Linked DNA regions of Homo sapiens. The protein of the gene in region 1 purifies or fractionates together with the protein of each later gene. This does not show direct contact. Each region holds a gene or a part of one and is shown in the gene's direction. Other genes may lie near its edges.

What was found.
Region 2: the proteins of MKRN1 (region 1) and LARP1 purify together in Homo sapiens (affinity purification with mass spectrometry, with the first as the bait; 2 studies listed by BioGRID). This does not show direct contact.
Region 3: the proteins of MKRN1 (region 1) and DHX30 purify together in Homo sapiens (affinity purification with mass spectrometry, with the first as the bait; one large-scale study listed by BioGRID). This does not show direct contact.
Region 4: the proteins of MKRN1 (region 1) and SMCHD1 purify together in Homo sapiens (affinity purification with mass spectrometry, with the first as the bait; one large-scale study listed by BioGRID). This does not show direct contact.
Region 5: the proteins of MKRN1 (region 1) and NUP42 purify together in Homo sapiens (affinity purification with mass spectrometry; one large-scale study listed by BioGRID and IntAct). This does not show direct contact.
Region 6: the proteins of MKRN1 (region 1) and DDX24 purify together in Homo sapiens (affinity purification with mass spectrometry, with the first as the bait; one large-scale study listed by BioGRID). This does not show direct contact.
Region 7: the proteins of MKRN1 (region 1) and DRG1 purify together in Homo sapiens (affinity purification with mass spectrometry, with the first as the bait; one large-scale study listed by BioGRID). This does not show direct contact.

Annotation. Positions count from the first base shown.
Region 1 is NC_000007.14:140,468,802-140,473,496, reverse strand, and holds part of MKRN1 (E3 ubiquitin-protein ligase makorin-1), read left to right. Parts: intron 1-1,485; coding exon 1,486-1,614; intron 1,615-4,695. UniProt on the Homo sapiens protein: E3 ubiquitin ligase catalyzing the covalent attachment of ubiquitin moieties onto substrate proteins. These substrates include FILIP1, p53/TP53, CDKN1A and TERT.
Region 2 is NC_000005.10:154,761,259-154,765,953, forward strand, and holds part of LARP1 (la-related protein 1), read left to right. Parts: intron 1-4,695. UniProt on the Homo sapiens protein: RNA-binding protein that regulates the translation of specific target mRNA species downstream of the mTORC1 complex, in function of growth signals and nutrient availability.
Region 3 is NC_000003.12:47,844,051-47,848,745, forward strand, and holds part of DHX30 (ATP-dependent RNA helicase DHX30), read left to right. Parts: intron 1-1,649; coding exon 1,650-1,802; intron 1,803-2,114; coding exon 2,115-2,951; intron 2,952-3,222; coding exon 3,223-3,298; intron 3,299-3,381; coding exon 3,382-3,486; intron 3,487-3,730; coding exon 3,731-3,906; intron 3,907-4,129; coding exon 4,130-4,336; intron 4,337-4,418; coding exon 4,419-4,500; intron 4,501-4,573; coding exon 4,574-4,695.
Region 4 is NC_000018.10:2,653,691-2,659,126, forward strand, and holds the start of SMCHD1 (structural maintenance of chromosomes flexible hinge domain-containing protein 1), read left to right. Parts: upstream 1-2,035; 5' UTR 2,036-2,385; coding exon 2,386-2,571; intron 2,572-5,436. UniProt on the Homo sapiens protein: Non-canonical member of the structural maintenance of chromosomes (SMC) protein family that plays a key role in epigenetic silencing by regulating chromatin architecture.
Region 5 is NC_000007.14:23,187,765-23,192,459, forward strand, and holds part of NUP42 (nucleoporin NUP42), read left to right. Parts: intron 1-4,695.
Region 6 is NC_000014.9:94,074,703-94,078,202, reverse strand, and holds part of DDX24 (ATP-dependent RNA helicase DDX24), read left to right. Parts: intron 1-3,500. UniProt on the Homo sapiens protein: ATP-dependent RNA helicase that plays a role in various aspects of RNA metabolism including pre-mRNA splicing and is thereby involved in different biological processes such as cell cycle regulation or innate immunity.
Region 7 is NC_000022.11:31,429,940-31,433,308, forward strand, and holds part of DRG1 (developmentally-regulated GTP-binding protein 1), read left to right. Parts: intron 1-3,369. UniProt on the Homo sapiens protein: Catalyzes the conversion of GTP to GDP through hydrolysis of the gamma-phosphate bond in GTP. Appears to have an intrinsic GTPase activity that is stimulated by ZC3H15/DFRP1 binding likely by increasing the affinity for the potassium ions.

The DNA of each region.
Region 1 (4,695 bases):
GTTGTTAAGATGCCTAGAGATACTCTGAGGGTGCTGTTTGGTTCTCTTGTACCCTTACAGGGTAACTTGGCAGTTTCTTGTTCTCTATGTTGGGGGCCACTATTAGGTTTCTAAGAGGCACAGCAGTAGGGGGATTCTAGTAAATTTTGTCTTTTACTGCACAGTGTCTCATGGAGACAGAGTCTGCACAGTGGAAGGAACTTCAGAAATAATATATGGCCCAGGTTTTCACCGAAGGCAAACTCAACTTGGGGTGAATCTGGATGATGTTTTTTTTTTTTTTTTTGGTGGTATCATTTAAAAACAAGACATATACTTATATTCATTGGTTTTTGTTTGGAGGAGAAATTCTTTGACGTAGACTATATCTTTTTTTCTTTTTCTTTTTCTTTTTCTTTTTGAGATGGAGTCTCTCTGTTGTCCAGGCTGGAGCGCAGTGGCTCAATGGCACGATCTCGGCTCACTGCAATCCCTGCCTCAGCCTCCCGAGTAGTTGGGATTACAGGTGCCTGCCACCATGCCCGGCTAATTTTTTGTACTTTTAGTAGAGATGGGGTTTCACCATATTAGCCAGGATGGTCTTGATCTCCTGACCTCGTGATCCATCCGCCTTGGCCTCCCAAAGTGCTGGGATTACAGGTGTGGGCCACCACGCCTGGCCCTTTTTTTTTCTTTTTGTTATGTAAGTTAAACAGTTTTCATAATCTAAGGCGTATTATTATTACATTTTTTTGAGACAGAGTCATAGTCGTGCTCCATCACCCAGGCTGGAATGTCAAAATAGTTCGTTGTAACAATGCAAAAACAAGGGCCAGGCGCAGTGGCTCACGCTTGTAATCTCAGCACTTTGGGAGGCCGAGGTGGGCAGATCACAAGGTCAGGAGATCGAGACCATCCTGGCTAACATGGTGAAACCCTGTCTCTACTAAAAATACAAGAAATTAGCCGGGCGTGGTGGCGGCGCCTGTAGTCCCAGCTACAAAGCAAAAACACAATGCAAAAACGGACTAATACACTTGCTTTACTCCTGTTTTCTTATCACCTTCTTTTTATTTTTTTTTTTTGAAATGGAGTCTTGCTCTGTCTCCCAGGCTGGAGTGCAATGGCGCGATCTCGGCTCATTGAAACCTCAGCCTCCCACGTGTAAGCAGTTCTCCTGCCTCAGCCTCCTGAGTAGCTGGGATTAACATGTGTGCCACCACACCAGCCAATTTTTGTATTTTTAGTAGAGACGGGGTTTCACCATGTTGCCCAGGCTGGTCTCGAACCGCTGGTCTTAGACCCCTGACCTCAGGTGAGCCACTCACCTCAGCCTCCCAAAGGTACTGGGATTACAGGCATGAGCCACCATGCCTGGCCCTTTCTTTGTGTTTATTTCGTATGTTTGTGTATTTACTGGTTGAATATATTAGTCATGAATACTAATTAGTTTTAATATTTTCAAGGATTGGTTTTAATCCAGTTTTGTGGTCTTTCGTCTCACAGGTATTTTATGCATGGGGTTTGTAAGGAAGGAGACAACTGTCGCTACTCGCATGACCTCTCTGACAGTCCGTATAGTGTAGTGTGCAAGTATTTTCAGCGAGGGTACTGTATTTATGGAGACCGCTGCAGGTAAGAATTTGTTTATAAATTTGTTCAGGGGTGGGTTGGAGGAAAAAGGTAAAAGACATACTTCTGATAGCTTTATATGTCACTGATTAAAAATAATGCTTTGAAAATGACTCTTGGCTGGGCAGTGGCTCATGCCTATAATCCCAGCACTTTGGGATGCTTAGGTAGGAGGATTGCTTGATCTTGGAAGTTTGAGACCAGCCTGGGTAACCTAGTGAGACCTCATGTCTACAAAATATAGAAAAATTAGCTGGGCATGGTGGTGTGCGTCTGTAATCCCAGCTACTTCGGAGGCTGAAGCAGGAGAATTGCATGAACCCGGGAGGTGGATGTTGCACTGAGCCAAGAGCCCGCCACTGCGCTCCAGCCTGGGCAACAGAGCGAGACTCCACCTTAAAAAAAAATTGGGTAGGGCTTTTCTATCCTCCTAGTTCAGAAATGACTAGGTGTATTATCTGTGGATGTTAAACAAGTAACCCTCAAATTTATTTTTTATTTATTTTTTTGAGACAGGGTCTTACTGTGTTGCCCAGGCTGGAGTGCAGTGGTGTGGTCACTTCTCACTGCAGCCTCAACTTACCAGGCTGAAATGATCCTCTCACCTCAGCCTCCCAAGTAGCTGGGACCACAGGGATGCACCACCTCATTTATTTAGTTTTTTGTAGAGATGGGGGTCTTAATATGTTGCGTAGGCTGGTCTCAGATTCCTGGGCTCAAGCAATCTTCCTGCCTTGGCCTCCGAAAAGTGTTGGGATTACAAGCATGAGCCCCAGAAACTGGCCCATCCCCAAATTTAGTAGGTTAAAACAGTGAACATTTATTATCTCAGTTTCTGGGGTTCCGGATTCTGTGAGTGCCTTAGCTGGATGGTTCTATCTCAGAGACACTTATGAGATGGCAGTCAAAATTTTAGCAAGTCATCTGAAGACTTGATGGGGACTCCAGGATATTTTTTGTGTGTGTGAGACCGAGTCTTGTCCCTCTGTTGCCCAGGCTGGAGTGCAGTGGCAAGATCTCGGCTCACTGCAACCTCTGCCTCCCAGATTCAAGCAATTCTCCTGCCTCAGTTTCCCAAGTAGATGGGATTACATCTGCGTGCCACTATGCCCGGCTAATTTTTTATATTTTTGGCAGAGACAGGGTTTCATCATGTTGGCCAGGCTAGTCTCGAACTCCTGACCTCAAGTGATCTGCCCACCTCGGCCTCCCAGAGTGCTGGGATTACAGGTGTGAGACACAGTGCCCAGCCAGCATTGTTTTTTGTTTGTTTGTTTGGGTTTTTTTGTTTGTTTTGTTTAGGATGGAGTCTTGCTCTTGTCGCCCAGGCTGGAGTGCAGTGGCGCAATTTCGGCTCACTGCAACCTCCGCCTCCTGGGTTCAAGCGATTCTCCTGCCTCATCTTCCGGAGTAGCTGGGATTACAGGCGCCCGCCACCACACCTAGCTAATTTTTGTATTTTTAGTAGAGACGGAGTTTCACCATGTTGGCCAGGCTGGTCTCGAACTCCTGACCTCAGGTGATCCACGCGGTTCGGCTTCCCAAAGTGCTGAGATTACAGCCGTGAGCCATGGTGCCTAGCCCAGTATTGTTTTTAAGAGGTCTTACTCTCATGACTGTTGGCAGGAGACTTTGGTTTCTCACCACTTGGCCTTTTTTTTTTTTCAAGACGGAGTTTTGCTGGTCACCCAGGCTGGAGTGCAATGGCATGATCTCAGCTCACTGCAACCTCTGCCTCCCGCGTTCGAGAGATTCTCCTGCCTTGGCCTCCAGAGTAGCTAGGATTACAAGCATGCACCACCACACCTGGCTAATTTTTTTTTTTTTTTTTTTTTTTTTGAGACAGAGCCTAGCTCTGTCGCCAGGCTGGAGTTCAGTGGCACAGCCTCAGCTCACTGCAACCTCCACCTCCCAGGTTCAAGTGATTCTCCTGCCTCAGCCTCCCGAGTAGCTGGGATTACAGGCATGCACCGCCACACTCAGCTAATTTTTGTATTTTTAGTAGAGATGGGGTTTCACCTTGTTGAAAGGATGGTCTTGATCTCCTGACCAGCCCACACCAGCCTCCCAAAGTGCTGGGATTGTAGGCATGAGCCACCGCGCCCGGCCCACACCCCACTAACTTTTGTATTTTTAGTAGAGACGGGGTTTCACTATGTTGGCCAGGCTGGTCTCAAATTCCTGAGCTCAGGCAGTCCACCTGCCTTTGCCTCCCAAAGCGCTGGGATTACAGGCGTGAGCCACCCCGCCTGGCCCACATGGGCCTTTTCATAGGGATACTTTAGTATCCTTGCAGCTTGGCAGCTAGCTTTCCCCAGAGCAAACAATTTAACAGAGGAGGCAAGGAAAAGCCACAATGCCTTTTATGACCTAGTGTCAGAAGTCATATACTGTTATTTCCACTGATTCTGGACTAAGTTACTAAGTCCAGCCCACATGTAAAGGGAGAGGATTGGGCTCTACCTTTTGAAGGAAGGCATATCAAAGAGTTTTGTATGTACTTTAAACCACTACCCTCGGTAAGACTTTTGACAGTGTCATAGTAAATTTTTTTTTTTTTTTGAGATGGAGTCTCGCTGTCACCCAGGCTGGAGTGCGGTGGTGGGATCTCAGCTCACTGCAAGCTCCGCCTCCCGGGTTCACGCCATTCTCCTGCCTCAGCCTCCTGAGTAGCTGGGACTACAGGCGCCCGCCACCACGCCTGGCTAATTTTTTGTATTTTTAGTATAGACGGGGTTTCACTGTGTTAGCCAGGGTGGTCTTGATCTCCTGACCTCGTGATCCGCCAGCCTCAGCCTCCCAAAGTGCTGAGATTACAGGCGTGAGCCACTGTGCCATAGTCATAGTCAATTTTAATGTCATTATCAGAAAATGTAGTGTGAGCCACTGGGTTCAAATAGAGTTCAGAACCTGACATTATTGATGGTGTGGGATATTAATGTTAAGTCATCCCACATCTGTTTATTAAGAGTCCAGTAAGGATGAGGGGAAAGAGAAGATCTTTTTCAAATGACTGTGTAGAAGTTCAGAAGTTGATCTCATAGAAACTTTGTTTAGTTGCTACTCATTTTGCCCTTTGCTAAT
Region 2 (4,695 bases), on another chromosome or scaffold:
AGGTAGGGGAAGGTTTTTAGGAAGTGGTTTTTGGCCCTTTGGGAGGTAGAGGGTAGTCACAAGCTTTCTTGAACTCTGAACCTCCTGAGGGTCGGGGTCTTTCTGCTGACCCACCCACTGTCTATAGTGGGACCTGAACTGGAGTAAGCAATCTTAATAGCTGTTACTGAGCACCCATTCTCTTTTCTGGGAGGTGGGCAGGGTGGGAGGAGGAGGAGGAGCAGCCGGCCTGAAACTACAAAACCTCTTTAAGATGGAGAGCTTGGCAGATGGGAGTTCCCCTGTTTGCAAAACCCAAGACAGCTCAAAGGGAGTAATTAGGGTGTTGGGGCCACTGGAGGTTCAGCAGGTGCCTCAGTCCAGACTCAAAAACCTCCCTGGCTGGTCCAGAGTGATCTAAGGGAGTGGCCAGGAGAGAGGATGGCCTTACCTTGCCTGGGATTCAAGAAAGGAAGTAAGTTTTGGTACCTCGCTGGTGAAAACATGGGAAACAGCACATCAATGTGAAGGGAGAAGGTGATGGGATTTAAATTAGAACATGGGCAGGGTACTTCTCTCTGCTCTCACTTTGTGACCTTAGATTGTTTGTCTAACCTGTTTTCCTTATTCACAGAATGGGGCTAATCCCGGTGCTGAGGTTGTTTAGAGCGTCAAATTGCTGTTGAGTATGGGGCAGTACAGTTCATGAATTGAAAAAGTCCTGCTGGGCGCGGGGGTTCACACCTGTAATCCTAGCACTTTGGAAGGCCGAGGCGGGCGGATCATGAGGTCAGGAGTTTTAAGACCAATCTGGCCAGCATAGTGAAACCTCGTCTCTACTAAAAATACAAAAAAATTAGCCAGGCATGGTGGCGTGTGCCTGTAGTCCCAGCTACTCAGGAGGCTGAGGCAGGAGAATTGCTCGAACCGGGGAGGCGGAGGTTGCAGTGAGCTGAGATCGTGCCACTGCACTCCAGCCTGGGTGACAAGAGCAAGACTCCATCTCAAAACAAAACAAAAAAACCAAAAAAACCTCCTACACAGAGGTAAGATGTAAGTTTTTTTTTTTATTTCAGAAGATTGCATTCCAAAGCCAGATATTGGTAATTACTCACTCTGAGGGTTTATCTGTGCCTTTCCGGAACTGAGTGGATAATCAGGAGTTAGCTGAATTTTCAACAAGGGCTATTTGTGGTAGTTACCAGGGGCAAGTGGCCAACTTCACATGGCTAATAGCCTGGGATGTCTTCCTGAAGGATGTTCCCAGAATCAAGGACAGTCCTAGTGTGGCACCTTTTTTTTCTTGGCTGAACCTTTAGACTGGCAAAGCCCTAGGTGTGGGGAGGGGAGGATTGTGGGTCTTCATAGATGAATTTTGTAAAGCCAGCTTGGTAGATCTGTCATATATGGCATGGGACTTCTCCATCTCAGTTTGATGTGCTGTTAGTAAACCTAGATGATTCCTCCATGACAGGCCTTGTTTACAGGCCACTTTGTAATTATTCTCCAAACTAGTGGTAACCACCTTACTCTCAAGACATACATTCCAGCCACTCAAAGTTGCCTTTTTCTTTGCCTTAGAATGGAGTTGCAAGCTTCTCAGAGGAAATTAAGTCCCACAGTAGCCAGGAGCCATCTAGATAAATGATCTGATAGAGATAGGGCTCTGTATGGTTTTTGCTCTGCTTTTCACTTAAACTAATTTATTTAGGCTCTTGATAATTCAGAGATAAGTAATAGTACTGGAATAGTCACCATTTACTGCATTTACTGAGTGTCTCACCTGTTCTAGCCCAAGTGATCTGCTGAGCAGATGCTTTTTTTTTTTTTTTTTTCTTTTTTTGAGAAAGAGTTTCTCTCGTTGCCCAGGCTGGAGTGCAGTGCACGATCTCAGCTCACCGCAACCTATGCCTCCTGGGTTCAAGCGATTCTCCTGCCTCAGCCTCCCAAGTAGCTGGGATTACAGCCATGCACCACCACGCCTGGCTAATTTTTTGTATTTTTACTAGAGATGGGGTTTCTTCATGTTGGTCGGGTTGGTCTCGAACTCCTGACCTCAGGTGATCTGCCCACTTCGGCCTCCCAAAGTGCTGGGATTACAGATGTTAGCCACCGCGCCTGGCCCAGCAGATGCTCTTTTTATTCCCACTTCACAGATGAGGAAAGTGAGACTCAGGAGACGTTTAGCAACTCTGTCCTTCTAATTGCTCAGACTAAAGACCTTAAGATCATCCTTGCCACCTCTGTTTTTTTTTTTCTGGCTGGTTGCAGTGGCTCACACCTGTAATCCCAGCACTTTGGGAGACCGAGATGGTAGGATCATGTGAGCCCAGGAGTTCAAGGCTGCAAGTGAGCTGTGATTGTGCCACAGTACTCCAGCCTGGGCGACAGAGTGAGACCCTGTCTCTAAAAAGTAAATGTCTTTTTGTGACCCCACATGTAATGTACTAGTACATCCTTTGACAATTAAACACTGTGTCCTGGCCGGGCACAGTGCCTCATGCCTGTAACCCCAGCACTTTGGGTGGGAGGCCAAGGTGGGCAGATTGCTTGAGCCTGGAAGTTTGAGACCAGTCTGGGTAACATAGGGATACCCCATCTCTTACAAAAAAAAAAAAGTACAAAAATTAGTCGAGCATGGTGGTGCGTGCCTGTAATCCCAGCTCCTGGGGAGGCTGAGGTGGGAGGATCACTTGAGCCTTGGGAGGTAAAGGCTGCAGTGAAAGATGAGTGTGTCACTGCACTCCAGCCTGGGCAACAGAGCAGGACTGTCTCAAAAAGAAAAAGCTGCCTGGGTGCGGTGGTTCACGCCTGTAATCCCAGCACTTTGGGAGGCCGAGGCAGGTGGATCACCTGAGGTCAGGAGTTCAAGACCAGCCTGGCCAACACAGTGAAACCCTGCCTCTACTAAACATACAAAAATTAGCTGGGCGTGGTGGCATGCGCCTGTAATCCCCAGCTACTCGGGAGGCTGAGGCAGGAGAATCGCTTGAACCTGGGAGGCAGAGGTTGCAGTGAGCTGAGATTGCACCATTGCACTCCAGCCTGGGTGACAGAGCAAGACTTCATCTCAAAAAAAAAAAAAAAGCTGCATCCAGGTTGGGTGTGGGGGCTTATACCAGTCATCCCAGCACTTTGGGAGGATCACTTGAGCGCAGGAGTTCAAGACCAGCCTGGGCAACATAGTGAGAGACCCCATCTCTTTAAAAAAAAATTAACTGGGTGTGGTGGTGCATTCCTGTGGTCTGAGCTACTCTGGAGGCTGAGGTGGAAGGATTGCTTGAGCCCAGGAGGTCGAGGCTATATTGAGCAAGAGCCACTGCACTCCAGCCTAGGCAATGCAGTGAGACCATGTCTCAAAAAAAAAAAAAAAAAAAAAAAAACTGGCTGGGCGTAGTGGCTCACACCTGTAATCCCAGCACTTTGGGAGGCCGAGGCGGGAGGGTCAGTTGAAGTCAGGAGTTTGAGACCAGCCTAGCCAACATGGTGAAACCCAGTCTCTACCAAAAATACAAAAAGTAGCTGGGCGTCATCGTGCACACCTGTAATCCCAGCTACTTGGGAAGCTGAGGCACAAGAATCGCTTGAACCTGGGAGGCAGAGGTTGCAGTGAGCCGAGATCATGCCACTGCTCTCCAGCCTGGGCAACAGAGCAAGACTCCATCACAAAAAAAAAAAAAAAGAAACAACAAAAAAAACCTATGTCCAGATCTAAATGCTTGTACCGCCTCGTCTCTTGCTGGCCTGGACCATACATCATCATTTCTCATGTAGATTTTTGCAGCAGCCTCTTAACTGGTCTCCTATCACTCCTACTTAAAGCCCTCTGGTAACTTCTTAGCAGAGTAAAATTCAGAGTCCTTAGAGTGTTCTCTAAGACCGCACTTGATCTGGTCTCTGTCCACCTAACCTCTGACCTCATCTTTCATCACTTGCCCCTTCTTCACTCATTCCCTTCCAGCATCAGTCCTCACTTCCTGAAACATGTCATGTACTCTTTGCTTTGGGTCTTATGTTCTGTAGTGCTCTTCCCGCAGATCACTGTGGTGGAAATGCCTTCCCAGACCACCCTATATAGACTAGCAAGTCCTGACCTTGGATTCCCTCTCTCCATCCCTCTTACCCTGCTTCATTTTTCTTCTTAGTTCTCCCCACTGCCCCCCGCCGCCCCAAGGCAGGGTCTGAGTCTGTCATCCAGCCTGCAGTGCAGCAGTGCAATCACGGCTCACTGCAGACTCAACCTCCCAGGCTCAAGTGATCCTTCCACCTCAGCCTCCAGAGTAGTAGCTGAGACTACAGGCACACGTCACCACGCCTGGCCAGTTTTTTAATTTTTTGTAGGAATGGGGTCTCACTATGTTGCCCAGGCTGGTCTTAAACTCCTAGGCTCAAGCAGTCCTCCCACCTCGGTTTCCCAAAGTGCCAGGATTACAAGCATGAGCCACGGCACCTGGCTATTTTTCTTCTTAGCTCTTATCACCACTGGGTCAGGGACTTCGATACCTGATTACGTTTGTATTCCCAGTACCTGCAGCAGTGCCTGGCACAATGTAATAGGCAGCTTGGTGAACATTTAGTGAAAGAATGAATTGCGTATTTTTAATGGCATTCATTCATTACATTTTGAGTGCTTACCATGTGTCAGACATAGGGGATACTGCAGTGCATAATAAAAAGTCTCTGCAAGAAACACATGCACTCAAAATTCAGTATGGA
Region 3 (4,695 bases), on another chromosome or scaffold:
GTGGGAGGGAGTTGGGATTGTCTCTGACTGCCTGAGGAGTTAGTAATCTCAACCCATGTTGGTGGAGGTTTAGTTTGCAGACCAAGATAGAAATGGGCCTGCTTTACTCTGAATGGTCAGGTGCACCATTTCATGGGTACAGTTGGCTCTGGGAACCATGTTTTAGTTACAGCTGATGGTGAGAGGTAACAAGAACCTGGAGAAAGACGAGGAAGAGGGGACAGGCAATTGGTGAGATAAAGAGGGCACAGATATGCTACCTGTGACTCGAGGGCAGAACAAGGACTGAGTAGAACTGGAGGCATCTGAGCTTTGGCCTGATGCACACGCACTGTGAGCAGAAGCACCTTGGCATGGTAGGGGCCTGTCTGGGAAGGAGCAAGCTTTGCAGTGGCTGGAGGGCCATTTGTCAGTGAGGCTGGTGGGTAAAACCCATGAAGTCTGGGGAGAGGGCAGAAGCCTGTTCCTGCAGCAAGGAGCTTGTGTTGGCACCTCCTGTGGTATGAGGACCAGATTCCTGTCCTTTAGGTCCTTATAGCTGATGGTGCCAGCACGCCCAGAGGCAGGGGGTTGGCCCCTGTTGGGGGAAGACTTCTTTAAGGAGGGAGTGTTTGATCTGGGCTCCGAAGGGTGAGCAGAGTCCAGCCATTAGAGGTGACAGGAACACAAGACTAGTTTTACCCATGTGCGTGAGGTATTGGAATGCTATGTTTTATCTCTGGTGAGGTGGCTTTAGGTATGTAGGGAGGTAAGACACAGTGTTTTCCTTCCAGTGGCTTGTTTGATCAAGTTGCATTATAATCGACATTTACAGGAAATTCCACGTGCATCTGTATATGATGGGGTCACAGATGGGTCGGGTGCCATGTAGGGATTGGGAGGCGGGATGGAAGGATTAGGGGAGGAAGGCTTTGATGAGGCAGCAAAGGAAGAGGGAGTCTGTGGGGTGCGTTCTAGCATCGAGGGCCTGGCCTGGCTGGTCTGAGGGTACATGTTGGGAATTCACAGAGGTGACAGTGGCCTATTGTGGTGTTGGGGGGGCTGTAGCCACACAGTGAGTGGTTTCTCCTCAGGGCCTTCTCCAGACGTAGGGCTGTTCTGCTGTGACACATCAGGTTTAGCTTTTCTTGAATTAACTTTATTATTATTTTCTTTGAGACAGAGTCTCGCTCTGTCGCCCAGGCTGGAGTGCACCGTCATGATCTCGGCTCACTGCAACCTGTGTCTCCAGGGTTCAGGCGATTCTCGTGCCTCAGCCTCCCTAGTAGCTGGGACTATAGGTGCCGGCCCCCCACCTGGCTAATTTTTGTATTTTTAGTAGAGATGGGGTTTCACCATGTTAGCCAGGCTGGTCTCGAACCCCTGACCTCAGGTGATTTGCCTGCCTCGGCCTCCCAAAGTGCTGGGATTACAGGCGTGAGCCACCGCGCCCGGCCTGAATTAACTTTAGTTCATTTTTTAAAACGTTTATTTTGGTAAGTTAACATTTTCCTAGTTCATAATTTCTCCCTCCATCACCATGTCAGCCAAAATCCAAAATCTCTTAGAGATTACTTGGCACAACTTATGCGTTGGAGCTCCTGAGCTTGTCTGGGCTGGTTTTTGGGGAGCCCCAGAGCATAGACTGAGTCTTGCATGTCCCCCTGCAGAGCCTGGGCCTGGTGGACAGGAACAACGAACCGCTTACACACGCCATGTATAACCTGGCCTCTTTGCGTGAGCTGGGTGAGACCCAGCGCCGACCATGCACCATCCAGGTGCCCGAGCCCATCCTCCGCAAGATAGAGACCTTCCTGAACCATGTAAGAGGCCCTGCATCCCTCACCACCCCTGCTCCCTGTAGTCTGCCTCCATCTCTCCAGACTGAAGGCCTCCACCTGCGACAGGCAGTAGTACCTCCCCATTCTCTTCACTGAGTTTGGGGCCTGGGATCCCCCTGGCCTGAACAGCCCAGTCTTGCCCACAAGGATCCCGGGGCAGTCATGGACTAAATTAATCCTCTGCCCAGCGGGTTGGGCCACAACATCTGACCCAGGCGAATCCTGCAGAGTGGCTGGTTGTGTGTGAATGAGGAATTTCTTTTTCATTGTTTTGCTTGCCTCCCTGCCCTCCAGTACCCTGTGGAGAGTTCATGGATCGCCCCAGAACTCCGGCTGCAGAGTGATGACATCTTGCCCTTGGGCAAGGACTCAGGGCCTCTGAGTGACCCTATCACAGGCAAGCCCTATGTGCCCCTGTTGGAAGCAGAGGAGGTACGTCTCAGCCAGAGTCTGCTAGAACTGTGGCGGCGGCGAGGGCCGGTCTGGCAGGAGGCCCCCCAGCTACCTGTGGACCCACATCGGGACACCATCCTCAACGCCATTGAGCAGCACCCGGTGGTGGTCATCTCTGGGGACACGGGCTGTGGGAAGACCACGCGCATCCCCCAGCTGTTGCTGGAGCGCTATGTGACCGAGGGCCGAGGTGCCCGCTGCAATGTTATCATCACCCAACCTCGCCGCATCTCTGCTGTGTCTGTGGCACAGCGGGTCAGCCACGAACTGGGCCCCTCCCTGCGCCGGAATGTGGGCTTCCAGGTGCGGTTGGAAAGTAAGCCCCCATCCCGAGGCGGGGCCCTGCTCTTCTGCACTGTGGGTATCCTGCTGCGTAAGCTGCAGAGCAACCCCAGCCTGGAGGGCGTGAGCCACGTCATCGTGGATGAGGTGCATGAGCGGGACGTGAACACAGACTTTCTGCTGATCCTGCTCAAGGGCCTGCAGCGGCTCAACCCGGCCCTGCGGCTGGTGCTCATGAGTGCCACAGGGGACAATGAGCGCTTCTCCCGATACTTTGGTGGCTGCCCCGTCATCAAGGTGCCTGGCTTCATGTACCCAGTCAAGGAGCACTACCTAGAGGACATCCTGGCCAAGTTGGGCAAGCACCAGTACCTGCACCGGCACCGGCACCATGAGGTGAGGGACACCCCCATCCCACCCAAGGCTCCTGGCCTTTCCTCCGTGGATGCCCCTCCTCCCTGGCCCTGGGGCTTGGTGCCTGGGGCAAGTTACCCTCCCCAGTCCTCGGTTTCCTTGATAGAAACTGGGGACTAACCCTGCCTGCGTGGCACACGTGAGGATTGGAGTTGATGTCAAGCGGCTCCGTCTCACTGAGTCAGGTGGCTGTGTCCTTGGCATGACCCCTTACCCCGGGGCTGTGACTGTGGCCTCTCTTCCCCCACCCCAGTCTGAGGATGAATGCGCACTCGATTTGGACCTTGTGACTGATCTGGTTCTGCACATCGATGCTCGCGGGGAACCAGGTGGGTGCCTCCCCATCTGTCCCATGCTAGCCCTGGCCACGTTTGCAGCAACAGCTGGCTCATGCCCCAGGGCTCCTTTACAGGTGGGATCCTGTGCTTCCTGCCTGGGTGGCAGGAGATCAAAGGAGTGCAGCAGCGCCTCCAGGAGGCCCTGGGCATGCACGAGAGCAAGTACCTCATCCTGCCAGGTGAGAGCCCCGGCGGAGGGACCAGGGACCTTTGGAAACCAGCCTGACCTCTGTCCTAGGGACTGACCCAACTGGGACTCCAGGGGCCCCGGTTTCTGACCAAGCTGTGGCACTTTTCACTGGGCATAGTGTTTATCTGCGCCTGTTTCATCAAAATGGGGTCAAAATCCTTGCCCTGCCCACATTCCAGGGGGGAATTCTGGTGGAAGCAGTGCCCATAACTGGTGTGTGTCTTGCCCACCAGTGCACTCCAACATCCCCATGATGGATCAGAAGGCCATATTCCAGCAGCCTCCAGTTGGGGTGCGCAAGATTGTCTTGGCCACCAACATTGCTGAGACTTCCATCACAATCAATGACATCGTGCATGTGGTGGACAGTGGGCTGCACAAGGAAGAACGCTATGACCTGAAGACCAAGGTGGCACCTACCTCCTGGGCCCGGCCAACCACTGGGGGAGGGACTCCGTTTTGAGGTGGTCCCCAGCCCAGATCTACCTTAGACCTGCTTTGTGTGTCTTCAGAAGGCCGCGCTTGTGGGGTCTCAGTGTTCCTGATGTAGGGGGCTGGTGAGGGTTACTCAGGGAGTGGGGAAGCACTGAGGAAGTGGCATTTGTGTGCTGCTTACTTGCCACCTCCTCCAGGTGTCCTGCCTGGAGACAGTGTGGGTATCAAGAGCCAATGTGATCCAGCGCCGGGGCCGGGCGGGCCGCTGCCAGTCCGGCTTTGCCTACCACTTGTTCCCTCGAAGCCGGCTGGAGAAAATGGTCCCTTTCCAAGTGCCAGAGATCCTGCGCACACCTCTTGAGAACCTGGTGCTGCAAGCGAAAATCCACATGCCTGAGAAGACGGTGCGGCGGGGCGGGGCAGGGGCTGGCCTGGGGACCAGGCAGGTGGGAGGCAGGCTCATGGCGGGCTCTGGCTCTGTCATAGGCGGTGGAGTTCCTGTCCAAGGCTGTGGACAGTCCAAACATCAAGGCAGTGGACGAGGCTGTGATCTTGCTCCAGGAGATCGGTATGTAGGGGCTGGGCTGGGCTGGGCTGGGGAGTGGCTCTCGAGGGTGGTACTGACAGCTGAGCCGTTGCAGGGGTGCTGGACCAGCGGGAGTACCTGACTACCCTGGGGCAGCGCCTGGCTCACATCTCCACCGACCCCCGGTTGGCCAAGGCCATTGTGTTGGCTGCCATCTTCCGTTGCCTGCACCCACTA
Region 4 (5,436 bases), on another chromosome or scaffold:
AAGGAAGAAGGGAATGGGGAACTTCTTCAGGGGCCACTAAGTTTTGGGGAAGTTCGTTATGTAGCAATAAATAACTGATACAAGGCCACTTAAATATTTTACTCTGTAGTAAGATAGCTAATTAACAAAAACTAAGAGTCAATTGAAGAGAACTCATTAAGGAAGTGGGTCATTTCAAACGCTTTTATTTACTTGTGATGACAATTAAATAAAGAACAAACTCGTCATCTTTCTTTGATGAAAAAATTGTTTGATATTCTGAGAACAAAAGTGATGCCATACTGCCATTAAGAAACTGATTCAGACTCGATCTCTCAACAAGGTAAGACATCAATGTTCCCATCAAGAGCTGCCCATAATACTGCAGTACACTTCTCTGGCACCATTAAAAAAAAAATCTCTTAGAGATGATCCTGAAATCTCTTCTAAAGACATGAAAGAGGTGTGCTTGTATAATCTGGTATTACAAAGAAATGAGAAATTGCCCTGATGACGAATCTCCAGCTCTAATCTCAATTTGCTGAAGTAGAGAGGCAATTCATCTTACCCATTAACTAAGAATTAGAAAAACAATTTGTGTTTTTCTTTGAGTCATTTAACTCAAATACCACTATATAAAGGAATAGAATGAGACATTCGCATGAATTTGAAAGGTAAATAAAACATCAGACTTCAAAGAAATTCCATTAGAATCGGGGGTTACTTTTTTGTTTTCTTTTCCTCCACCTCCACCTTAAGGAACATGAACGGCATTTGGCCACAGTTTATGTCTTTCCAATTTTATCTTCCACCATCTACCGCTCAGTTCTCCTCACTTCCAGCCAAACAATGTATGTTCCCCAAACACGCCTTCACAATTTCGTTCTAGTTGGTGTCTACCTCTAGTATATGTGTAGTCAATTTATACACACATTCCCCACGATCTTGAAACGTCTTGACATCCACAAGCAAATCTAGGTTTCTAACATAACACTAACTTTGTAAGTCTGTCCATATAAGGTTTTAGCAAACCTAGTAAAACAGAAAACGCACTATTATCCAGGCTTATATTCTGAGATTTGAAAAACCCCTCTATCTGCTACCTTTGGGTTTCTGAATTTACATACCACTCTCAAGTATACAGTATTCACGATTTCTAAGAACTGGAGAGTAAACCTAGTCCTCTAACAATGGCATTTTATTTGTTGAGTTAGGGCACTACCTGCCCACGATGAGGATAGTTAATGAAACGCTGCCCGGTAACGACGATTAAAGGCTTTGATTGAAAACGTATTAGGCCTTAAGAATTTTGCGAACATCTAATTTAACCCTAGTAACTGTGGCGTGGGTTCTTTCAGAATTTACACGCACGTGGGAGACCGCGAAGCGCAGGCAGCGTTAAAACTAGGGCGCTGGAGTCACCCCCGTACCCCGAATGCCGTCGGCGCTCCAGGGCCCCCAGAGGGTGCGGGGGGCGGGGACGCTGTGACGTCACAGAGCGCCCTTCTGACGTTCTCACGGACCCGCTTTGCCTCGGGGGCCCACGCTGGAGCCCACCCAGTACTACTAAGAAATGAGGAGGAAAAAGGGGCGCCGGCTCTCGTAGCGCCTATTTTCTCGGCAGAGGGACCCACGTGCTCGCTTTGGTGGACTCTGCGCCCGGCGAGTACCGCCGGCCTGAAGCTTCCCGCCGCCGCGTCCACGCGACCCAGCCAGAGAGGGCTCAGTCAGCCGGCGCGGCACCTACAAGCTCAGTCGGGATCCTGGAGAGGCGGGAAGGCAGCGGGGCCCTTTCCACAGAGAGAACACAGCTCTTCGGGAGATTCCCCCGCTGCCCCCGAGCCCTGCTCTCCCGCCTCGGCCTCTGAGGACTACCCGCAGGGCGCAGGCAGCCGCGAAAGACTCAGCCTCCTTCCAACTTCGCGAGGGCCGAGGGGGCGGGCCCCGGGCGCGCGCGCGGCGAAGCCCCGCCCCTGCCCGCGCGGCCTGCTGGATTCGCCCCGCCCCTCGCTGTCGCCCGCCGCCCGCCACCCGCCACCGCTCTTCCTCCTGCGCCACAGTCCCGGCGGCGGCGCTGGTCGCGGGTCGCACCGTGAGGCTCGCGTGGGCGGCGATAGGCGCTGGGCCCGGGCCCGGTGAGGAGCGCGCCGCGCGTCCCCTTCTCCTCAGGAGTGGCGGGCCGCGGAAGTGACGTGGTGCACGGGCAGGAGCGCGTTTGAATCGGTTCCCGGGTGATCCTCGCGCCTGCCGCTGCTCGGCCGCCGCCGCTGACGAGGAGCTGCAGCGCGCCGGGCCGAGGCCTCGAGCCGCCCCGGGAGCTGGAGCTGAAGGCGCCGCGCGGAGCGCGCACCTCAGCCCTGAGCCCGGCGGCGGCAGGCGTCGCTGTCTTTTCTCCTTTTCCCCAATATGGCAGCGGCGGACGGCGGCGGGCCTGGTGGGGCCTCTGTGGGGACTGAGGAGGATGGCGGAGGCGTCGGCCACAGGACGGTGTACTTGTTTGATCGGCGCGAAAAGGAGTCCGAGCTCGGGGACCGGCCTCTGCAGGTCGGGGAGCGCTCGGACTACGCGGGATTTCGCGCGTGTGTGTGTCAGGTACGCGAAGGGGCGAGGAAGGGATGCGCGTGTAGACTTGGGGGCGGGAGGGTGATGAGAAACTCAACTTGCTCACTGAGGGCAATAAACCTGTCACCCGGTCCCGGTCCTGCGGCCTTGGCTTCCCTCTCCCGTGTGCCCGCCATGTCCGTGACCTGGTGGCCGGACGCCTCGGGCGGGCCCTGGCCCGGGCCTCGAAGTGCAGGGCCGGCTCCCCCGTGGCCCTCCCTCTGCCTCCGCTCCTTTTACGGGAGGCCTTGCCGGCCCGGGTGGAGAGCTCAGCGTTTGTTGGCCCTGGGCGAGCTTAGCCCGGTTGCGGCCCTGCAGTCTAGGGAAAGCCGTTGGTGGTGTCTGTTTTTACTTTGTAACTTTTTTAAAACGAGAGAAGGGAGTTAACGCCCAGGGGCTCTGTTGTGAGTGTTGCGACGGTGGGAAGTTGTGAAATGCCCGGAGTCATCTCCCCCAAGTTCATTAGATGATGCGGGGTGTCCCCGGGTTGCCCTGTCGAGGTTGCAGGTCCTTCTGGGGCGGGGCGGCGGGGGGGATCCTTCCGCACGGAGACACTTGTCCAGGTCAGCTCTGCAGGTAGAGCTGGCCTTCTGCCTGTCTGAGCCCTAACCCTTGGGAATTTCCAAACCAAGTCAAAGGTTGGTATGGGTGGCTGTGGAGCACCAGAAAACGTACCTACCCCGTGTATTGGTTCGCTTTGAAAATGAACGTGGAGGGAAATCCGCTTTAAACTGTGATGTACTTTATAGATATGAGGTGGTGGCATTGCCTGAGCTTTGAAGAAGGAATATTGTCATGCTCTGAATTAACCATATGAGGTCCCTTTTTAAGCTGTTAAGAACACTTAGCGTCCAAGGGAAAAAAAGAACTTTGAAGCCGTGTTTTGTCGTGAGGCTGATAGGTTTAGAAATGTTCTAGACCATATAACTGTATGGTTGCTGAAATAATTGAAATCGTGATCCGTAGAATGAAAACGATTGGAGAAGTAAGGACTTTCTTTTGTTCACAGCTGTAGTCCCAGCGTCTAGAACTGTGCCTGCGACATTGTAAATGCCCAGATTAGAATGGATAAATGAATGAAGACAAAAACCTATCCCCTCAAGTTAATTCTGTGCCTGAACGTAGTAGATTCCCGTTGTGTTTGAAAAGTGAATGAATGCTCATCTTTTTTGTTGAATGCTTTCTATTCAGAACCATTCTACAAAAGGGAAACTTTTTACGTTTATTGTGTTTATAGTAAAAATATCAGTACATTAAAGAAAATATGGAACCAGAGGGGGGAAACAAGTAAATCTTTTACTCGCTGTAAAACTACTATATGACTACTCTTAGCACCTGAGGTTATGTCTTTTCAGCCTTCCTCCTCCTTCCCACTCCATTTTTTAAATTACTAAAATATGTGTTTTATATTCTATTAATTTTTTCACTTAATAGTGTCAGAAGTTTCTTTAAACGTAGGTCTTCAAATCAAAATTTGAAATGGTCCATTTGCTACCACTATTTACATAACCGAATCTCTCCTTTCTGTTGACATTTACATTACTTTTAATTTTTTTGATTTTAAGTAATGCTGTAATAAACATTTTCCCAGGCCCAAATATTCCCGGGCTCAGGTGATCCTCCCACCTCAGCCTCCCAAGTAGCCAGGACTACAGGTGAGCGCCACCATGCCCAGCTATGTTTTTTTTTTTTCGTATTTTTCGTACATACGGGGGTTTGGCTGTGTTGCCCAGGCTAGTCTCGAGCTCCTGGGCTCAAGAGATCCACCCGCCTCCCAAAGTGCTGGGATTACTGGCGTGAGCCACTGCACCCAGTGGAAAAACATCTTTGAATACATAGCCGTTTATGTCTTTTATTATTGTTTGCTTAGTTTGAAATCTTAGAACTGGATCAAAGATGAGATACATCTTTAAAGCTCTTGTTTCGTATTTTAAAATTGCTTTTTGAAAATGTTTTGCTACTTTACCCTTCCTCTAGAAATGCACTATTTCCCTCTCGTGAGATGTCTCAGTAACTCTTAGATAAATAGAGGAAGTATTATTGGCCTTTTATTACAGAAGTATAAACACAGTCGTGGAAATGGTGACTCATTACTCAGATAGTAAAGCTCAAGTTAGTATTCAAACCCAGAACCTCTGTTCATTCTGTTATACTACTCAAATGGCATTCTTTGCTGTAGGGAACAGATGTATTTATTCCTTCCTTCAATATTTCAACTGGAAAACCAAGGAAAATATTTCTTTTAACTAATTCTGTTCCTCCTTCCTCCCACTTTATCCTGCTAGAAAACGTTTTAAATTTAGTTAGAAATGAGAGGGACCAACTAGTAAGAAAAAAGAAGGCTGAGAAGGCTAACTTTTTTGTTGTTAGACTTCTTTTAAGCATTATTAGATTGTGCCTCGGATCCCATAACTTTGTCTCCATTACGTACTCGAAGAACTGAATTAAGTCAGTGAATTAATAATCTGAGATTACATGGTCAACAAGCAGTGAAACTGGGATTGGAATTTAGGTCAATTTGATTCCAAAGCTTATGTATACATATACATATATATGTGTGTGTGTATATATATGTATATGTATATATACATATATATACACACATACACACATATATACACATATATACGTGTATACGCATATATACATATATACACATATATACACATATATATACACACACATATATATATTTTTTACACTACTCCACACTATTTATTAGAACCATCACTTTTGTCCTTAGGGGAAGAGACAAAATAATATACTAAAGTTTTTGTTAAAATGTAAATTAAACCAATAAATGTTTGTAGTGTCAGGCAGTATTATGGGTGATCCTAAACTGTTACTTATTTATTT
Region 5 (4,695 bases), about 120 Mb from region 1:
CCTGGCTAATTTTTGTATTTTTCTAGAGACGGGGTTTTACCATGTTGGCCAGTCTAGTCTAGAACTCCTGACCTCAGGTGATCCGCCCGCCACAGGCTCCTAAAGTGCTGGGATTATAGGCGTGAGCCACCACACCTGGCCTGGAATAGCATTTGCTTTAGAATATTCTCTGTCTCTCTCTCTCTCTCTGGCCTGGAATAGCATTTGCTTTAGAATATTCTCTCTCTCTTTTTTTATTTTTTATTTTTATTTTTTTTTTTGTCCATAGTCCCTAAGCCCTTTCTGGGCTGAAACCTAGACCACCGGGCTTTCCCAAGCCCACTCTGGGTGTTCCTGGGCCTCCGTCCTTTTGAGGAAACAGTGGGTACCTTGCAAATGGGAGCTCTTGCAATCAATATCGCAGAACCTTGGGATCTTTCCTCTGTCTCAGTTCTAGTTGCTCATTTTCTGTGAGCATTTGCATTACAACGCTTCTTATTTATTCACTTGTCCATTTAACAAATATTTACTGAATTTCTTTTGTGCTAAGTGCTAGGAATATAGTGATGAGCAAGACAGACAAGATCCCTTCCTTATGAATCTTACATTCTTGAGGGAGGAAAACAATAAGTGATGCAAATAAACTAAGATAATTTCAGATAATGATATTTTCTATAAAGAAACCACAAAGTATTAAGCCCTTAATCAGCTTAAGTATTAGTACTTGAGTATTAATCCATTCCAAATTGAACCTAATGCCTGTTGCCCTAAAGCAGTGGTTCTTAAAATGTGGATTCCTGAATATAGTTGTCAGATAAAATATGGGACATCCGGTTAAATTTAAATTTCAGATAAACAGTGTTTTTAGTATGTGTACATGCCATGTAATATTTGGGGCACATTTATACTAAAAAAAGTATTTATTGTATATCTGAAATTCAAATTTAACTGGGCATCCTGTATTTTTATTTGCTAAGTCTGGCAACTTTATCCCTGAGGCCCTTTTAGGAGTTGCCTGAGTTCAAAAATATTTTCTGATAATACTAAGTGATTAATTGCCATTTTTCACTGTGTTGACATTTGCACTGTTGGTGCAGCAGCATTGAGGAGTAGAACTACTTGTATCTTAGCAAGAATCAAGGCAGAGGCAATAAATTACTAGTAGATGTCACAATAAAAAAATGTTTAATGCCATTTGAACTTAAGAACTTCCTTTATGAAGAGATAAAAATTATTAATTTTGTTAACCCTTGACCCTGAGTACGCACCTTTTTAGTATTCTGTGTGACAAAATGGGAAGCACACAAAAAGTGTGTCTGCCCCATGCCCAAGTGTGATGAACAATCTTGTGTAATTGTTCAAGTTGGACTGAGCTAGCCACTTTTTTCAAAGACAATATTTATTTGAAAGGAATGACAACTATGGTTATTTAGAAGAAAACAGTTGATAGTGTTTATTGCCAATGAAAAAAATTAAAACTTTCAAGCAAAAATTGAAATTACGGAAAACTTTGTCATCGTGAGCATGATGGCTTCTCAGTACTTAAAATCTCTTCTGATTAAATGGATGGCAACATTCACAAATGTGAGGGCCACACGCAGCAGCTCATGCCTGTCATCCCAGTGCTTTGGGAGGCTGCGGTGGGAGAATGGCTTGAAGCCAGGGGTTTGAGACCACCTGGACAATATAGCAAGACCTTGTCTCTACAAAAAATACAAAAATTAGCCTGAGTATGATGGCATATGCCAAGACTCTTAGCTACTCTGGAGGCTGAGGTGGGGGGATCACTTGAGTTCAAGAGTTCAAAGTTATGGTGAGCTCTGATGGTGCCACCACACTCCAGCCTGGGTGACAGAGCGAGACCCTGTCTCTTTAAAAAATTTTTTTGGCTGTGCACGGTGGCTCACACCTGTAATCCCAGCACTTTGGGAGGCCGAGGTGGGTGGATCATGAGGTCAGGAGATGGAGACCATCCTGGCTAACACGATGAAACCCCATCTCTACTAAAAAATACAAAAAATTAGCCAGACATGGTGGTATGCGCCCGTAGTCCTAGCTACTTGGGAGGCTGAGGCAGGAGAATGGCATGAACCTGGGAGGCGGAGCTTGCAGTGAGCCAAGATTGTGCCACTGCACTCCAGCCTGGGTGACAGAGTGAGACTCTGTCTCAAAAAAAAAAAAAAAAATTTTTTTGATGTTGTATAATAACGTGCCAATGTTTAGAAGTTCTGCATAACTCAGTGAACTGGCATTTTTCAAATGACTTATATGTGATATTACAAAATTATGCATGGCTGAAAGTCCATTCTACATGCATGATAAACCAGTGAATGTTAATATAATGCCACAAAAAGTTCATTAGTATGGCTTGAGTCTATGTTATAGTTAACCTTTAAAAAACTACCACTTGTTAAGTTTTGGTGTAGTATCAAAGAAAAATGTCCACAGTTATTTGAAAAAGCCATTTAAGTCTTCCTTTTCCAATACGTGTCTGTGTGAATGCCCATTTTCTTCATACACTTCAGTCAGAACAACATATTGCAACAGAATGAATGCAGAAGCATATGTAAGAATCCAGCAGTCTTCTATTAAGCCAAACATTAAGAGATGTATAAACATAAAGCAAGGCTATTCATCTTACTAAATTTTCATTTTTTGTTTTGGAAAATAGCTTTTTCATTTATGTAGATAAGTAATTGTTTTCTTACTTTTAAATGAATTAATACTAAGTTTCTCAGTTTTCATTTCAAATGTGGTAATTATCAATGTAAGTAACCCTTGTAAACAAACATTCTTTGGGGTCCTTAATGATTTTTAAGAATGTAAAGGAGTACTGAGACCAAAAGTTTGAGTACTTCTGTCCTTAGGCATCCATTGTATTAATAAATTAACTTTTTCCATGCAGCTATAATAGAATGATACTACTTTTGTCAATTTTGGCTTTTGTTGCCATTGCTTTTGGTGTTTTAGACATGAAGTCCTTGCCCATACATATGTAACAAACCTGCACATTGTGCACATGTACCCTAAAACTTAAAGTATAATAAAAAATAAAAATAAAAAATTAAAAAAAGAATGATACTACTTTTGCCCCATTTTGCAAGACTTGAGAAAATTATCACTCAAATCATTTTCTGTGTTCTGTGGTTTGGATGAGGAATTCTGGTTGAGCACAGCTGGAAGGAATAGGCAATTAGGGGAACAATATTTCTTTAGATAGAGTGGTTATCTATTCCTGGGAGACAGTATTGGAAATGAGTCCTGAATAAAGAGAGGGTATCAGTTATGGGAAGATTTGGGGAAAACATTCCTGGCAGTAGGACTAGCTATTGCAAAGGCCCTGAGGTAAGAACAAGGTTGGCAGTGTTTACAGACTAGTGGGGCCTGAATTACTGGAGGAGAGTAAACAAGGGAAAGTAATATGACAGTAAGGCCAGAGAGATAGCCAGGGGCCAGATCATGTTGGGCCTAATTGCACTGGGCAGGCAGCCATGAAGAACTTTAAGCAAAAGAGGGACGTGATCTGATTAGAAAAAGCTAACTCAGCATGCTGTGTGAGGGGGGAGAAAGGTCTGTTGGGAGCCGTGGCAAAAGTAGAGATAGGGAGACAAGTTAGAAGACATTGCTGCTTGTGACTAGAGTTCATAGCAGTGAAGACAGAATTGGTCATATTTGGGTTCTCTGTTGGAGCTTGAACTGGCAGGATGCTGATTAACTAGATATAGGGAAAGAGAAATCCAAGGTGATTCCTAGGGTTTTTTGGCCTGAGAGGTCAGTAAAGATGGGGAAGACAAGTCATTAGAAGGAATCCAGGGAAACATTTAGTCTTTCCTTTACTCTGAAGCAGGTGTCCTTGGAGTTAATAATAACTGGATTACAAGGAATTCTTTGTAGAAAATATCTTGAACATTTTTTGCCTTTCTTAGTAAGTTTGCCCAATTATAAAAGTTACAGCTTTTGGGCCAGATGTGGTGGCTCATGCTTGTAATCCTAGCACTTTGGGAGGCTGAGGCAGGTGGATCACTTGAGCCCAAGAATTTGAGACCAACCTGGGCAACTTGGCGAAACCCTGTCTCTACCAGGGTGTGGTGGCACATTCCTATAGTCCCAGCTACTCAGGAGGTTGAGATGGGAGGATCACTGGAGCCTAGGAAGTCAAGGCGGCAGTGAGCCACTGCACTCCAGCCTGGGTGACAGGAATGAGACTGTGTCTCAAAAATAAAAAACAAGTTACAGCTTTTGCTTTAGAAAACTTGGAAAGTACAGAAATATATAAATAAAATAAAAATAACCTGATATCACAGAGGTAACTACTACATTTTAGTATATTTCTTTCGAAACATATACACACACAAACATATTTCTTGTTTATGTATACAATTGACCCTTGAACAACATAAAGTTTAGCGGCACTGATCCTCTGTGCAGTCAAAAATCCACGTATAAGCTTTGACTCCCCAAAAGCTTAACTACTAATAACGTACTGTAAGAGAAAAGAAAATGTTAAGAAAATCATAACGGATCAGGCGCGGTGGCTCACGCCTGTAATCTCGGCACTTTGGGAGGCTGAGGCGGGTGGATCACAAGGTCAGGAGTTCGAGACCAACCTGGCCAATGTGGTGAAACCCCATCTCTACTAAAAATACAAAAAAAATTAGCCGGGCTTGGTGGTGCATGCCTGTAATCCCAACTACTGTGGAGGCTGAGGCAGGAGAA
Region 6 (3,500 bases), on another chromosome or scaffold:
CTTACATATAACCTATATAGGCACATCCTCCTGTATATTTTAAATCATCTCTCGATTACTTATAATATCTCATACAACATAGGTCTTATGTAAATTGTTACACCGTATTGTTTAGGGAATAATGACAAGAAAAGTCTGTACAGTGTTTAGTACAGATACAGTTTTTTTTTTTTTACCCCCCCGAATATTGTCGATCCACAGATGCAGAACCCACGGTTACAGAAGGGTGACTGTATAATGTGAAACACATAAGTAATTTAAAATTTACTAGGAGTCACATTTTTTAAAAGTTAAAAACTAGTGAGATATTTTATGTTCTTTTTTTTTTTTTTACTAAATTTTCAAAATCTGGTGTGTTTTAAACTTGCAGCACATGTCATTTTAGAGTAACTACATTTTAAGTGTTCAGTAGACACGTGCTTTGGGTTTCTGGAACAGTGGTCAGGAAACTCAGGATGATGTTCTGTGGCAGTCATATAGATGGAAGAGTGAGGAACTACAGGAAAGGGGAATGGAGATAATAACTTAGAACATTTACTGAGCATTTAAGATGTGTCATGCACTGTGTTAAGTGCTTTATGTTGATGAAATCGGTTGTCACAACCACCCTGGGGTAAGTACCATTATTCCCATGTTACAGATGAGAAAACTCAGCCTCACAGAGCATAGACAGCTTCCCTAAAATTACACAACTGAAATGGTAGTGTATGGATTCCAGGCTAGTTCTGTGTGTTGTTAAGCATTCTGCTACACTGCTTTGGTATGTGCAGCAGAGTCCTGGAAGTAAGTCCGTGGAAGGCAGAAACAAGGTTTATATGAGCCGTTGTGGCCAGAGATTGACATTTGGATGTATACCACAGTTCCTGTCAGGTTGTGAATCTACAAGTCCAGAATTCAAAACGACTTGGATAAGTCATCCATCTGGGGCTGTGAACAGACCACTGCCCATGCAATAATAAATAGACCCTTAATGTGGGGATTAGGGGCATTGGTCCCCTGTGCAGTCGAAAATCCATGTATAATTTTGAACTCCCCCCAAACTTAAACGCTAATAGCCTATTATTGGCTGGATGCCTTACAGATAACATAAGCAGTCTATTAGCACATATTTTGTATTATATACTTTATTCTTACAGTAACATAAGCTAGAGAAAAAATGTTATTAAGAAAATTGTAAGGAACAGAAAATATATTTACTATTCATTAAATGGAAGTGGATCATCATAAATGTGTTCATCTTCATCTTGACTTTCAGTAGGCTGAGTAGAAAGAGGAGGGGTTGGTCTTGCTGTCTCAGGGTGGCTGAGGTGGAAGAAATTCTGTGTATAAGTGGACCCCTACCTTCAAATTTGTGTTAAAGGGTCAACTGTATATCCATTACCCCCAAAAAGATACCCTGGGTTTTTTTTGTTGTCCCTCCCTCCCTCCCTCAGTTCTTGTTCCTCCTCAGGCAACCACTGATAGGCTTTCTATCACTATAGATTAATTTGCATTTTCTTGCTTTCTTTTTTTTTTTTTTTTTGAGACGGAGTCTCGCTCTGTCACCCAGGCTGGAGTGCAGTGGCCCAATCTCGGCTCACTGCAACCTCCGCCTCCTGGGTTCAAGTGATTCTCCTGCCTCAGCTTCCCGAATAGCTGGGATTACAGGCACTTGCCACCACATCTGGCTAATTTTTGTATTTTTAGCAGAGACGGGGTTTCACTATGTTGGTCAGGCTGGTCGCAAACTCCTGCCCTCATGACCTGCCTGCTTCGGCCTCCCAAAGTGCTGGGATTACAGGTGTGAGCCACTGTCCCCGGCCTAATTTGCGTTTTCTAGAATTTTATATAATGAAATCATATAATATGTACTGGAGGGGGTGGTATCTGAGTCTTTGACTCAGCATAATTTGAGATTACGCCATGTTATTACAATTACTAGCAGTTCATTCCTTTTTAGTGATGAATAGTATTCCAATGTGTGGGTAGAGCAGTTTGTTCATCTATTGATGGACATTTGTGCTTTTTCTTGTTTTTGGCTATTACAAATATAGTTATTGTAAATACTATTGTACCAGTCTTTGTATGGATATGTGCTTTAATTTCTATTGGATAAATACCTAGGTGTGGAATGGCTAGGTCTTGTGGTAAATGTAACTTTTAAAGAGTTTTCCAAAGTGATTATACCATTTTACGTTGTCACTAGGTGGTATGAGTTCAAGTTGGTCCATATTCTTGTCAATAACTAGGTATGCTCAGTCTTTAATTTTATTTTAGACTTTTAAAATTTTACTATTATTTCCTTGTCATTTGAATTTGCATTTCCCTAGTGACTAGCAATGTAGAGCATTTTAGCATATGCTTATTTGTCTGTTTGATTATTTTGCCCATTTTTAAAATAGGGATGTTCTGTTGTAGAGTTTTGGGAGTTCATTGTGTATTCTAGATACATGTCCTTTATCAGATGTGAGATTTGCAAATTTTTCTCCCAGTTTGTGGCTTATCTTTTCGTTCTCTTAACAGTGTTTTTCAAAGAGCAGAAAGTCTTTATTTTGATGAAATCCAAATTAGCCTTGTCTTTTATGAATTTATGCTTTTGGTGCCGTTGGTGTTTTATCTAAGAACCTTTTGCCTAATTCAAGATCACAAAGATTTCTCCTGTGTTTTGTTCTAGAAGTGTTAATAGTCTTAGGTTTTATGTTTTGGTCTCTGATCCTTATTGAGTTAACTTTTATTTAGAGTGAGAAGTATGGATCAAAGTTTGTGGGTTTTTCTGCATATGGCTAATTATTTCAGCACCATTTGTAGAAAAACTATTCTTTCTCCACTGAGTTGACTTTGCATCTTTGTTGAAAGTCTGTGACCATATAGGTGTGGGTCTTTCTCTGGAGTCTTTTTGTTTTCCATTGATCTGTTTGTCTAGTCTTTATGTCAGTTTCTTATTCTCTTGGTTATAATAGCTTTATAATAAGTCTTAAAATCAGGTAGTATGAGTCCTCTAACTTTGTTCTTTTTAAAAGTTATTTTGACTGTTGTAGGCCTTTGCCCTTCCATATGGATTTTAGAATCCGTTATATCAGTTTCTACAAAAAAAGTAAGCTGATATCTGGATTGGGATTCTGTTGATTACAGAGCAAATTGAGGATAGATGACGTCTTAACAATATTTAATTTTCCAGTCTATGAATATGGTATCTCTCCATTTCTTTAGATCTTTAACTTTTCTTAGCAATGTTTTAAAATTTTCAGTATATAGATTTTTCACATCTTATGTTAGATTTATCCTTAAGCATTTTATATTTTTGATTCTATTGTAAATGGTAATTTAAAATTTTTTATTTCCGATTGTTTGTCGCCAATAAGTAGAAATATGATGGATTTTTGTATATTGATCTTGTGTCCTGCAACTTAGTTCCACCAAGTAGTTTTCTGAGGATTCCATGGTATTTTCTGCAAAGATGATCATTATCCAGTCTTGGATGCCTTTTGTTTTTCTTGTTGTATTGCAGTGGCTAACACCTT
Region 7 (3,369 bases), on another chromosome or scaffold:
TATTTATTGTAGAGATGGGGTCTTGCAATGTTGCCCAGGCTTCTCAAACTCCTGGGTTCAAGTGATCCTTCCATCTCTGCCTCCCAAAGTGCAGGATTACAGGCATCAGCCACCCTTTCCTTACTTTTTGATAGTGTTAATACTTAGATGTTCCCAAATGACATTGATTTTGCCTGCACTAGCCCTGAAAATTAGTCACTTCTCCAAGGAGCCCCAGTTTTCAAGATGTGGGTGCTAAGCATGCTCATTGTTAGCAAGTAGGTTATCATTGCCTGTAGGCCCTCTCAGCAAATAAAGTTAGGAAATACATGTATGGATACTAATGATGCTTATATACACAACTGTATTTCTGTATCTGTCTTATCCTTCCTCACTATCCATCATTTATCCATCTTTCCTAAAAACCATGAGTTTATACTGTTATCTCTGATTCTAGTTCAATACTACAGGGTTAATTTTTTTTTTTTTTTCTTTTTTTGAGATGGAGTCTCGCTCTGTCGCCCAGGCTAGAGTGCAGTGGCGCCATCTCCGCTCACTGCAAGCTCTGCTTCCCGGGTTCACGCCATTCTCCTGCCTCAGCCTCCTGAGTAGCTGGGACTACAGGCACCCGCCACCACACTCGTCTAATTTTTTATATTTTTAGTAGAGATGGGGTCTCACCGTGTTAGCCAGGATGGTCTTGATCTCCTGACCTCGTGATCCGCCCGCCTCGGCCTCTCAAAGTGCTGGGATTACAGGCGTGAGCCATCATGCCCGGCCACTACAGGGTTCATTTTAGCCTTCCCACTTAGTATTATTTTTGAGACAGGTTCTCTGTCTCCCAGGCTGGAGTGCGGTGGCTCTGTCACAGCTCACTGCAGTCTCGACTTCCCAGGCTCAAGCGATCCTCCTACCTCAGTTTCTGAATAGCTGAGACCATAAGTGTATGCCACCATGCCCAGCAAATTTTTTTTTTATTTGTAGAGACAGGGTCTCCCTATGTTGCCCTGGCTGGTCTCGAACTCCTGGGTTCAAGCGATTCTCCTGCTTTGGCTTCCCAAAGTGCTGGGATTACAGACACTAGCCACTGCACCCGGCCTTCCCCCCCCCCCCCCGCTTTTTTTTTTTTTTTTTTGAGACGGAGTCTTGCTCTGTTGCCCAGGCTGAGTGCAGTGGTGCGATCTCGGCTCACTGCAAGCTCCGCCTCCCGGGTTCATGCCATTCTCCTGCCTCAGCCTCCCGAGTAGCTGGAACTACAGGTGCCTGCCACCATGCCTGGCTAATTTTTTGTATTTTTAGTAGAGACGGGGTTTCACCATGTTAGCCAGGATGGTCTCGATCTCCTGACCTCGTGATCTGTCCACCTCGGCCCCCCAAAGTGTTGGGATTACAGGCGTGAGCCACTGTGCCCGCCGCACTTTTTTTTCTGAATAGGAAAAAGGGTTAAAAACAAAAGAAGAAAATAGGGCTAGGTGTGGTAGCTCACGCCTGTAATCTCAGCACTTTGTGGCCAAGGCAGGAGGACTGCTTGAGTCCAGGAGTGTGAGATCAGACTAGGCAATATAGTGAGACCCCGTTTTTATCAAAAATAAAAAAATTAGCCAGACATGGTACCAGGCACCTGTGGTCCCAGCTACTCAGGAGGCAGAGGTAGGATTGCTTGAGCCCAGGAGGTTGACATTGCAGCGAGCCAAGATAATGATCATGCCCCCTGTACTCTAGCCTGGGCAGCGGACTGAGACCCTTCCTCAAAAAACCAACCAAAGAAAGAAAAAACTTGTTTCTGATCCTAAGAGTACTGAGAGAGTGAAGTCCTTTATTGACCTTCAGATCCTTACATATAAAACAACTATATTCCACATGTAAGTGCTAATTTCCACCACAGTCAAAACATTATGCTTTGGCAGTTACTTTAACTGGTAAAGATGACTTTTGTAAAAAGTTAAACACTGTCCTTTTTCAAACTTTGTAGATTTATATATAGCTCTTTCCTTCTATGGTGGCAAAACATTGTTCAAAACCTTCAGAACTTTAAATTTACCAGGGAATTAAAAAGGGGAGAAAAATGTCTCAGATAAGAAACATATCGAAGCAAACAGGATTTTATTTGCTCTTATTTTACTGTTTTTTTTTTTTTCTTTAATTATTGCACAACTATCTTTTTGGTTTTTTTGAGATAGGGTCTTGTTCTGTTGCCGCCCAGGCTGGAGTCCAGTGGCGTAATCGTGGTTCACTGCAGCCTTGAACTCCTGGGCTCAAGCGATCCTCCCACCTTAGCCTTTTAAATAGCTGGGACTACAGGTGCAAACCACCATGCCTGGCTAATTTTTTCTATTTTTCTAGAGCTAGGGTTTCTCCATGCTGCCCAGACTGGTACAACTCTCTTAATAATAGAAAACTTTCATCTTCAGGCCTAATTAATTATAACATTTATCCCTTTTCCATTTCCTTCATGTCCTTGACCACACTGATCCCTTACTCTGTGCTTTGTGTTTTTTGTGTGTGTGTGTGTTTTTTTTTTTTTTGAGACTGAGAGAGACTCAGTCGCCCAGGCTGGAGTGCAGTGGCGCGATCTTGGCTCACTGCAACCTCCGCCTCCCAGGTTCAAGCGATTCTCCTGCCTCAGCCTCCCAAGTAGCTGGGACTATAGGTGCGCGCTACCACGCCCAGCTAATTTTTTTGTATTTTTAGTAGAGATGGGGTTTCACCATGTTGGCCAGGATGGTCTCGATCTCTTGACCTCATGATCCGCCCGCCTGGGCCTCCCAAATGCTGGAATTACAGGTGTGAGCCACCACGCCTGGCCTAATTTTTGTATTTTTAGTAGAGACAGGGTTTCACCATATTAGCCATGCTGGTCTCGAACTCCTGACCTCGTGATCCGCCCGCCTCAGCCTCCCAAAGTGCTGGAATTAGAGGCATGAGCCACCGTGCCCGGCCTGGAATATAGATTTTTTAAAGAGGTTTTGACTCAATGATAATATAACAACAATATGGCCACCTTTTTTACTCTTGGTACATAGTTCTTAGTCTCTGTGAGGCAGGTCTCGGTGTCTTATTCACCAGTTTTCATCTCTAGCACAACATATTCTTAAGTTTGGAGGCCCATGGATATAAATTACCTTCACATATTCCAGTAAATCGGGAGGACATATCAATTACAGTTTCTGGTTAGGGAGGAAGATTTTCCTGGCATGGCTGAAGAGGGAGGCCCTAATTTCTTGTCAGTACCCACTGATGGTTTCAGGAAACCCAGCAAAAACAGGTATTCTCTAACAGTCTATAAGTGATATTGTATCTGTAAGAATCAGTCTGAAATTTTCAGGGTATTTCTCTATGAAGATTAAAGACGGATTTTTTTTTTTTTTTTTGAGGCGGAGTTTCGCTCGT